Linked DNA regions of Homo sapiens: region 1 is linked to region 2. The links come from fine-mapping of genetic effects on gene expression. A gene starts in region 2. The other region holds a variant in brackets. All regions are shown on one strand. Distances are between the middles of the regions.

Region 1 (4,374 bases), 94 kb before region 2:
GCCAGCAGGCATCAAACAGCTCTCCTCCCGGGACCACTGAGAAAGGGCTCGAGAGCTTGGAGGACGTGGGGCTGTTCCTAACCACATCCCAGACTGTAGGTCCCCTTGTCCCCAGCTCCCCATGAATAGGAGACTGTGTTCCTCATGAGTTCAGACGGAGTATCAGCCATTTCTGCATAGTTCTCCAGAGCAGGGGAAGGTGCAGAGACCTGGCCCCAGCAGCTCCGGCATGGGGAGGCCCCACTTCCAGGGCTGCCAGCAGTCACTGTGATGACTGGCATGTAGCAGATGCTCAGTCAAGTGCGCCCCTCCCTCCCGCCACTCACTTCCCTCCGGTTCCCCCTGCCCCCCTCCTCAGCTTCTTTTCTTTCAAGGGCCTGTTTGCCTGTAGGAGATTTTCATCAACCAACCACAAATATTTACTCAACACTTACCGGCAGGCAGCACGTGAGCTCCACAGGGCAGGGGGCTCTCGGTCCCATTTGCTGCATGTTCCCCATCTGAACAGGGCCTGGCATGCAGTAGGTGCTCAATAAAGGCTTGGTTGGTAGTCACAGCCTGAAACAGGGTAGTCTCTGCTCCCAGAGAGCTTACATTCCTGCTGCCTTCAGAAAACATCCTGAGGGGCTGGGCGCGGTGGCTCACTCCTGTAATCCCAGCACTTTGGGAGGCCGATGCGGGTGGATCATTGAAGTTGGGAGTTCAAGACCAGCCTGGCCAACATGGAGAAACCCCATCTCTAGTAAAAATACAAAAATTAGCTGGGCGTGGTAGCACACGCCTGTACACGCAGCTACTTGGGAGGCTGAGGCAGGAGAATCGCTTGAACCTGGGAGGCGGAAGCTGCCGAGATCACCTCACTGTACACCAGCCTGGGTGACAGAGCGAGACTCCATCAAAAAAAAGAAAACGTCCCGAGGGTCTTTGAGGGATCATGGAGCCCCCACACGTGGGTGGGGTGAGGGTCTTAAAGCCTGCCCTCCCCGTCACTCTGAGCTATGGCCAAGCTGGGTGTAACCCTGGAGAGAGTCAGGGTGTCCTCACCCGCTTCAGGCAGCTGGCCCCCATTTCCCTCTGCAGTGCCTGGGGCGGGGGTGACAGGGAGCATTTAGACCCGCAGCTCCCTGCACAGGGACCTCCTGGGGCACTCGCCTGCATCACAAGAATAAAAATGATAAAAACCTGCCACTGAATTCTGGGTGGCAGTAAATTACTTAACACCTGAAACAGGTTGAAATGTGGCCACTGTGGTTTTAATAAGCCCATCTCCGATGCAGTGCTTCCTCGCCGGGCCGGCCAGTTCTCTTCTTGAGGCATAATTTCATCTCGTCCCAGGCTTGGCAGCATTGCAAATAAGATTTCACTTCCCCTGTAAATCTTAGAGGGAGGGAGTGCAGGATTTCATTTGTGCTGTCAGTTAGCACTCCAGAGAGCCTGTTTACTTTGCCGCAGGAGGAGAAGGTCCTCTGGAGGTGCTGGACAGGGTGGCGGGTGGGGAGGTGGCAGTGTCAGCACTGGAAGGTGACGTGGGTGCGGCGGCGGGGAGGCAGCGGCATGTGTGGGGGGGTCCTGGAAGCATGCCTTATTTGGGGTGCCTGAAAGTGGATGAGCCAATGTCAGACCCACGGAGGCAGAATTTCAGGGCCAGCTGGGTGCCCTCCCATGCGTCCGGGACCCTCCTAGGCTGGGTGATAAGACTCAGCCACAGAACTTGGGTGTGGGGGTGTGGCCTGGGGTGTTAGACCCCTCCCAGGTTCCGACGCCTCTTCTTCAGGTTGCTCGGTGAGGCCAGAGACCCCTCCTGGGAAGTAGGGGCAGGAGAAGGGAAGCTTCCAGAACCCAGTGGTAGCCAGGTAAGGGCAGTTTCCAGGTACAGGAAAGCAGCCATGGAGGGGTAGGTATCACCCACTCTCTCTCTCTCATTTGAGCAGGAGCTTTTTAGTCCTGAGTCTGACAAAACAGACGGAGTCAGATACACAAAGCCGGAGCCCCGGGACTTAAGGTGCCTCTTGGCCGCAGGGCAGCCATTCGGGGGTCTTACCCACACGTGCCCCTAATCTCAGTGATAATGCAAGTCCTGAGAGATTTGTGGGGAAGGAAAGGGCCCAAAGTGGCTTGGCTGGAGGGTGGCACGGTGGGGGGCTGCAGCAGTGGTGTGGGGTAGGTTTCTCGGGGGACCACCCCATCTCCTGGCATCCAGCTGAAGACATGGTGTCAGGGCTCTTTGGGGCCAGCAGGTCCCCTGCAGTGCCTTTGAGGCACTGGCCAGTCCTGCTTGCTTTCCTGTAAGAACGGGAGGCTCACGGCCCCCCAACCACCCGGTCCTCTTCAGAACAGGTTATGTTTGGAGGGTTTTCCTTTCATTCCTGAAATGCAGGTCCTGGCAATTCCCTCCTGTGCGGCCCAAACCTGGCTGAGCCTCCAACT[C/T]CCCTGGGGCGCGTATTAAAACCTGAGATGTCCCCCACACCCACCCCCAATCCTGAAGCCTAAGGCTGCAGCCAGCCTGTCATCCTCTTCAGCAGGCCGTGGACCTGGGATTGTTGTGGGGGTGGTTTGGGGAACAGGCCCCACCCTGTACGGTTGCCTCTCTGTGCTGGACCTGGGGGCACTTTGCTGCCTGGGTCCAAAGGTCCTGCCAAGAACCTGGGCCTCCCTGCAAGAAGTGCCAACCAGCTCAGCACCTGGCTCCATCCCTGGGGGCCAGGAATGCGGGAGAAACCCCCCAGGAGGCTGTGCTGGGGGTGGGGGAGGCCTACACTCCCCAGACAAACTGTAGGCAACCCGGCCTCCCACGCCCTCTCACAGAGGCTCCGTCACAGCCGTAGGGTTGGTGCGGGTGGTTTCTGAGCTGGGCACTCCCAGTGGCATTACCTGTGTCGTCCCACCTCACCCTCCCAACAGCAGTCGGGGATGGAGCTGTTATCATGTACGCATGGAGGTGGAAACTGAGGCACAGAGAGGATGAGTAGCACATGTGGTAACTGGCGGAGCCCATGGGTCTAACCCAATACCCAGGGACTCCAAGGCCCTGCCCCAGGAGAGCAGTGGTGTTAATCCAGTGGTTCCCAAAGGCCTGTGACCGGGAACCCTTTCTGGGCAACACCTGTGTTAGCTCCAGGGGCTGAGGAACACAGTTTGAGAACACAGCCCTTCTTCCCTAGCTTCGAGGGCTCCACAGGTGTCCCCAGATTTGTGGCGCTGCCACACGTGGGGAGGGTGAGGTAAAGCCGGGAGCAGGACTTCCTGGGGAAGGGTGGGTTCACTGGGGTTGGCAAGGGCTGTTGTGCTTGGAGAATCATCCTCCTTGTACTCACATGGATCCATGGAGTGATTGGCTGATTGATTTACTGTTTATCGACTCACTCTTCATTCCTGTTTACGGGGCCTCCTGGTGCCAGACAAGTGCCCTCTGGGGATCTGGAGGTGTGGAGGGCAAGAGCTGCCAGTCTGGGCTCAGCCAAGCGAGGCGTGGGAAGGGGTCACCTGTGCAGGTGAGAAAGGCCAGCAGAGGCGTGGGAAACCAGTGCAGCATAGACCTGAAGTCTAAGCCACACTGGGCCTGGGGGGTGTCAGGCGTGGAGGGCAGAGGGTGGGGCTGCACTGAGGCTGGAGTCTGAGGGGGGCAACGGGGAGATGGGGGGACACAGGGCCTTCCTGAGTGGGGCGCAGAAGTGGACCTGCCCTCCTGTCTACCTCAGGCGGGCGGCGTGCCAGGCCTTCCCCATTGCCTCCTAGTCCTCCTTATCCGTGGAAGCGTCCTCTGTGGAAATCTGGTTCCCCACAGAGCCTCCCCAGCCCCACCCAGGCTAGGCCCTGACTCAGCCACGTAGATTCCTCACTCCTCCATGAGGCAGGAATACACCAGCCCCAGAGCATAGCAGGCCCTCAGTCAATATCTCCTGGCTGGCTGGCTGGCTGACTGTGTTCCAGAAAGAGCCCTCGACAGCCCCAGAGAATGGGTCTCAGGTGAGGGAGTGGGCACCCCTCCTGGGCACCCACTGTGCGCTGGGTCTCAGGGAGAAGTTGGAAGAACAGCCTGGGTCCTTTCCTGGGTGGTCACACTGTGTGCCACACCTTAGAGTGGTCTCTCTTGGGCTGCTCCTGCCCTGGCAGGACAGGAGGTGAGGATGGAGGAGGAGGGTGGGGCAGAGAGCACCTGTGGGGCCCACGTCACCCCACTCAGGGCCACCGGCCACTGAGAATTAACTTTGCTTCTTTGGAATATAAGGAAAAACCCGTTAACTGTATCCAGACATGAAATCAGATCTCAGGCAGAAGTAATGAGTTCTTGTTTTATGTTAAATTTAGCAGAGACTGCTATTGTTCTCATGGAAATTTTGTTCCTTCCTGTCCCCCTCCCTTTGGGATGTGAGA
Region 2 (4,374 bases):
AAGCAGCACCCTGGCTCAGGCTCAGGAGGTGGCACTATCAATCCCATTTTACCAACAAGGGAAACTGAGGCACAGGGAGGTGGAGGGACCAATAAATGGTAGAGTGCGGATGCACAGACCCAGGTCTAGGTGAAGTCCAGCAGGCCACAGCTGCCTTGGGGGTGTGGGCTACGGAGCCTCCATGCTGGGGTCAGGGTGCTTTTTACTGAAGAGTATCCAGTCTCTGTGTCTGGGAAAGAACATGGGACTGGGTGCGCACACACACACACACCCTGTGCCCATGGCCGACCCTTCAGCCAGATATGTGACAGCCCTCAGCTCTTCCTGCCCCTCACACCTACCAGGGCCCCCTCACTGCTGGCCCAGCTAGGCAGCGTCCCCTCCCAGGCACGGGCCCTGTCAGCTCAGGCCATTTCCATTTTAAACCTTCTGAGGAAGCCCTGAACAGTCGCCCACGGAGTCAGCACCAGCTGACAGGTGATGTCTGCGCCTCTCCTCCCGGGGCTGGCGGAAGAGATGCAGTAGCTTTCAACTCCAGAAACTGGAATCTGGAGCCCCTGAGCGCGGCGGCTGCCTCCCCCGCGGCCGCCGGGCAGAGACAGGGTGCCTCAGCCACCTCCCTCCACAGTGGCATCGTGGGTCCCCCCCACAGACAGCCTCCTTCCTAACTCCTGAGCCACCTGGGGAGGGGGATGTGGAGGGGCTGGTTTCCATCCAACCCGAGGGCGTAGGGGCCGCGGTGAGGCAGGGCTGTTCTCAGTCACCCCTCACCTCCGTCCCCAGCCTTGGCTGTATTTATTCACATCAGAGCTCTGGCTTGGGCCTCGGGGGCCTGGCACACCCCAGCTGGGCTGTATTCTCTCAAAACTGCCCACCCTGGAGGGCCTCGAAGACCTCCCGGGGCCACCGGGAAGGCTGTGGCAGCTCCCTGGTGTCCCTGTTCCACAACTTTCTCCTCCTCGGGGAGCTCTGATCAACCACGGTTCCCTGCAGCTGGGCGACAACACTCCCCAGCCTTCCTCCCCGGGGTCTCCAGTGCCCGCGAGGAGGGGCGTGCGCCGCCGGGTCGGGCCGCCTCCTTGTCTTGAGAGCTGGGGGATGGGGGGTGCCCGCCGCCCCCCGCCCAGGCACCATGGTCTCACCGTTCCAGCCGCCAGGTGTACGGCCCCAGCCCCCGCCCGGCTCAGGGCTGACGGTCCACAGCGCGCACAGGGAGGGAAGTTGGAGGCTGCTCATGCCCCCCTTGAAGTCGTTTTAAAAATAAAACCTCGCTCCAACCGTGACTCACGCGGCTGGTGGGGACGGGAGCGCGGCGCCCAGGCCGGCCGGCTGTCCCTGGCCGCGCGCCCTCCTCCGGTTCCCGAGTGCGGGAGCTGGGACCCACATGACCGGCCTGACGCCCCCCACGGGCCAGGCCCCCTCCCTGGGGGGTGCAGCGAGGGCTTGGACTAGAGCTCCAGCTGAGCCCCCGCCCTTTCCAGCCTCGGCTCGGGAGAGCTGAGCCGCCGGCCGCGCACCCCGCGCCTCCCCGCGGCGGGGCCAGCGCCACCGCTACTGGTGCTTGGCTCTTGACTCAGGGACCCCCACCCCAAATCCCAAAGGCTGGGCGTCCCATCTCCCGCCGCTCTGGGGCAAAGCCAGGCTGCCTGACCCCGTGGCGCTTCGGTGCCCCCGGGCCCCCGGCCCCCGCCCCGTCGGCTCTGGCGCCCTGTCCCAGACGCGCGGACCCCGACCCCCGCCCGGTGCAGCCAGCCCTACCTGCGCAGCGGCCGGGGAGGCGGGTCTCCTCGGGAAACTTTGCGGTGACGGCTGGAGCCTCAGGGGTTATTCCAAGGAGCGGGCGGGAACCAGAGCCGGAGGGCGCCCAGGGGGGCCCGGGAGAGGAGCCCCCGGCGCGCGGCAGAGCACGGTGGCGGGCCCGGAGCGGGGGGCGCGCGGCGGCGCATCTGCCCGGCTCGGGCGCCCGGCGGAGCCGCGGGAGGAGTGCGGGGGGTGCGTCCAGCGGCGGGGTGCGTGTGCCCGGGCGGGTGCGCTCGGCGGCGGGGCGGGGACCAGCGGCGGTGCCCGCGCGAGCGGCGGCGGCGAGCAGGGCGCGGGGAACCAGGCTGTGCGGCCGCCTCTCCCCTCGCGGCGGCGGCGGCGGGGGCCGTGCGTGCAGGCGCGGAGCGGGGAGGGAGAGGAGGAGGAGGGGAGGGGGAGGAGGACGGGGGCGCCGCGCTGCGCACTGGCCGGCGGGACCCGGCGCGGGAGGCTGCGCCGCCGCGCGGGGATTCTGGCCCAGCCGGGGAGAAGCGGCCTCCGCGCCCCCCTCCCCCGCCCTCGGCTAAACTGGCTGGGGGAAGGGCGGGTGGGGGAGCCGACCCCTCTGGGGAGTTGGGGGAGGGAGGCTCCCAAAGCCAACCTCCACCGTGGAGGCGGGGGAGAAAGGGGTTCTAGCTCACGCGCCGCCTCCCCAGCACCCTCCTCTCCGCACCCACTCATTCAACCATCCCTCCAGCCATCCATTCATTCATTCATTCATTCATCCGTCCACCCGTGCATTCATTCACAAACAGGTACCCACCGCCTACTCTGCATGCCAAAGTAACCCCTTCCTTCCTGCCTGGCGCCCCTTCCCTGGGCAGACCCTCTCATCCGCCGCGTGCTGTAAACACCCGGGCGCTCCCCAGCAATACCCCTCCCACCTATTAAGGGGGCAGTGCCAGGGTCCCATGCCAGCGCCCCCTCCCATCCCCAGCTGACTGTGACCTTGGCCAAGTTGCTGAACCTCTCCCAGCCTCAGTGTCCTGGATTGTGAAATGGGACCGTTACTACCTAGCTCCAAAGGTTACTGTGAGAGATGAAGAAGACCTTGAATGGGAGGGTGGCTGGCCCAGTGCCTGGCACCTATTAGAGACTGGGAAGATGTTCATGCCTGTGGGTGGCATCCGGGTGGGGTGAGGGAGTGTTTAGACCAGACAGCCTCCTCTTAGCCTGAAAGTCCCCGTGCTCTTGGCATTCGCTGGGACACTAAGTAAGGGACTCTCCCATATACCCAGCCTGGCCTGCCCTGGTCAGACCTCATCACCTTGTCAGTGGCTGCTCTGAGTCCCAAGCCTGCCCAGAGCCCCCACCAGGGCCCCAGTGCTCCTGATCCACCCTCAGACCGCCCACAGTCTGGCTGGGACCCCCTCTGCCGGCCCTGCTCTTTGCTGTCCATCGAGGCCTGGGGGCCACCTCCCCTCTGGGATGCCCTCCCAGATCCCCTTGGGGAGGGTCCCCCCTACAGAGACTCCAGCACCTCTCCCCCTCCTTTCCCTGTGCAAACCCAGCCCTCTTGCGCCCAGTCCGGGAACAGACTGGGGCCTAGCCTGAGGCCGCCGCCTCTGGCCTCTGTGCGCTCTGCATGCGCCTGTCTTTGCCCTTCCTGCCTCTCCCTCCTCACTTCACCCTTCTAATTTCCCTCCCCTTAACTCCCTTTCTTCTTTCTCCCAATTTCTACTCAATTCACCAAACAGCTATTTTTTCCTCCCAATTTTTATTTATTGCCCAAACAGCATTATACCAACAATAAAAGAAAGAAAAATCACCCACAATGCCACCGCCCTGTGGCGTCAACAGCTTCCGTTCCTCTGCTCCCTTCCAGGCTTGTCCATGCAGAGACGGCTGTAATTTTTACAGAGCTGTGGTTTCCGTCCCGCCTTCCCAGACCCCCAGATGGACGTGTGGCCCTGGGGCTCTGTCATTCCTCCATCCCAGCACTTGGCGTGTGGCTCAGGAATTATGTTCAAGCCTTCCTCCTCTTCTGAACTAAATGTCTTGAAGGAGAGACCCCTTTCTATCCCTGCCACCCCCACACCAAGCCACAGAGCTGGCACAGAGCGCGGGCACTCAATGCCTCGCAGTGGAATGGATTGTATGATTGTAGCTCTGTTTGACATGTCACACTTAGATATCAAAATGTTATCTTCGAGCCAGCCATGGTGGCTCACACCTGTAATCCCAGAGCTTTGGGGGGCTGTGGTGGGATGATTGCTTGAGACCAGGAGTTTGAGATAAAAAAAATACAAAAAAATAAAAATAATAATTTTTTTGGGGGGGCGGCGTTTCACTCTTGTCGCCCAGGCTGGAGTGCAATGGCACGATCTCAGCTCATGGCAACCTCTGCCTCCCAGGTTCAAGCAATTCTCCTGCCTCAGCCTCCCGAGTAGCTGGAACTACAGGAATGCACCACTACGCCTGGCTAATTTTTGTATTTTTAGCAGAGACGGGGTTTCACTATGTTGGCCAGGCTGGTCTCAAGCTCCTGACCTCAGGTGATCCACCCAACTCGGCCTCCCAAAGTGCTGGGATTACAGACGTGAGCCACCACACCCGGCAAAAAATAATTTAAAA

Direction of the effects. Positions count from the first base shown, and alleles are read on the strand shown. Sizes are in standard deviations (SD) of each study's normalised expression.
With allele T in place of C in region 1, the expression in tibial nerve of the gene that starts at base 1,987 in region 2 is lower (small effect, 0.40 SD a copy in GTEx).

Evidence for each region. PIP is the estimated chance that this variant, and not a neighbour inherited with it, causes the effect. A credible set is the group of variants that fine-mapping cannot tell apart.
Region 1: its variant is the best candidate, but not a certain one, in a credible set for the expression of FLRT1 in tibial nerve (GTEx, PIP 0.61).

The regions. Positions count from the first base shown.
Region 1 is chr11:64,127,877-64,132,250 of GRCh38, reverse strand. The region is part of intron 3 of MACROD1 (mono-ADP ribosylhydrolase 1); the gene reads left to right. Among named protein-coding and RNA genes, the nearest start is that of MACROD1, 36 kb to the left of the region's middle. RefSeq lists an enhancer at 2,181-2,774. The variant C/T (reference allele first, on the strand shown) is at 2,428.
Region 2 is chr11:64,033,544-64,037,917 of GRCh38, reverse strand. It overlaps FLRT1 (fibronectin leucine rich transmembrane protein 1), which reads right to left and starts at 1,987. Exons shown (of 3, transcript NM_013280.5): 1 at 1,759-1,987. All of the region lies in intron 3 of MACROD1 (mono-ADP ribosylhydrolase 1), which reads left to right. RefSeq lists enhancers at 143-1,044, 1,045-1,947.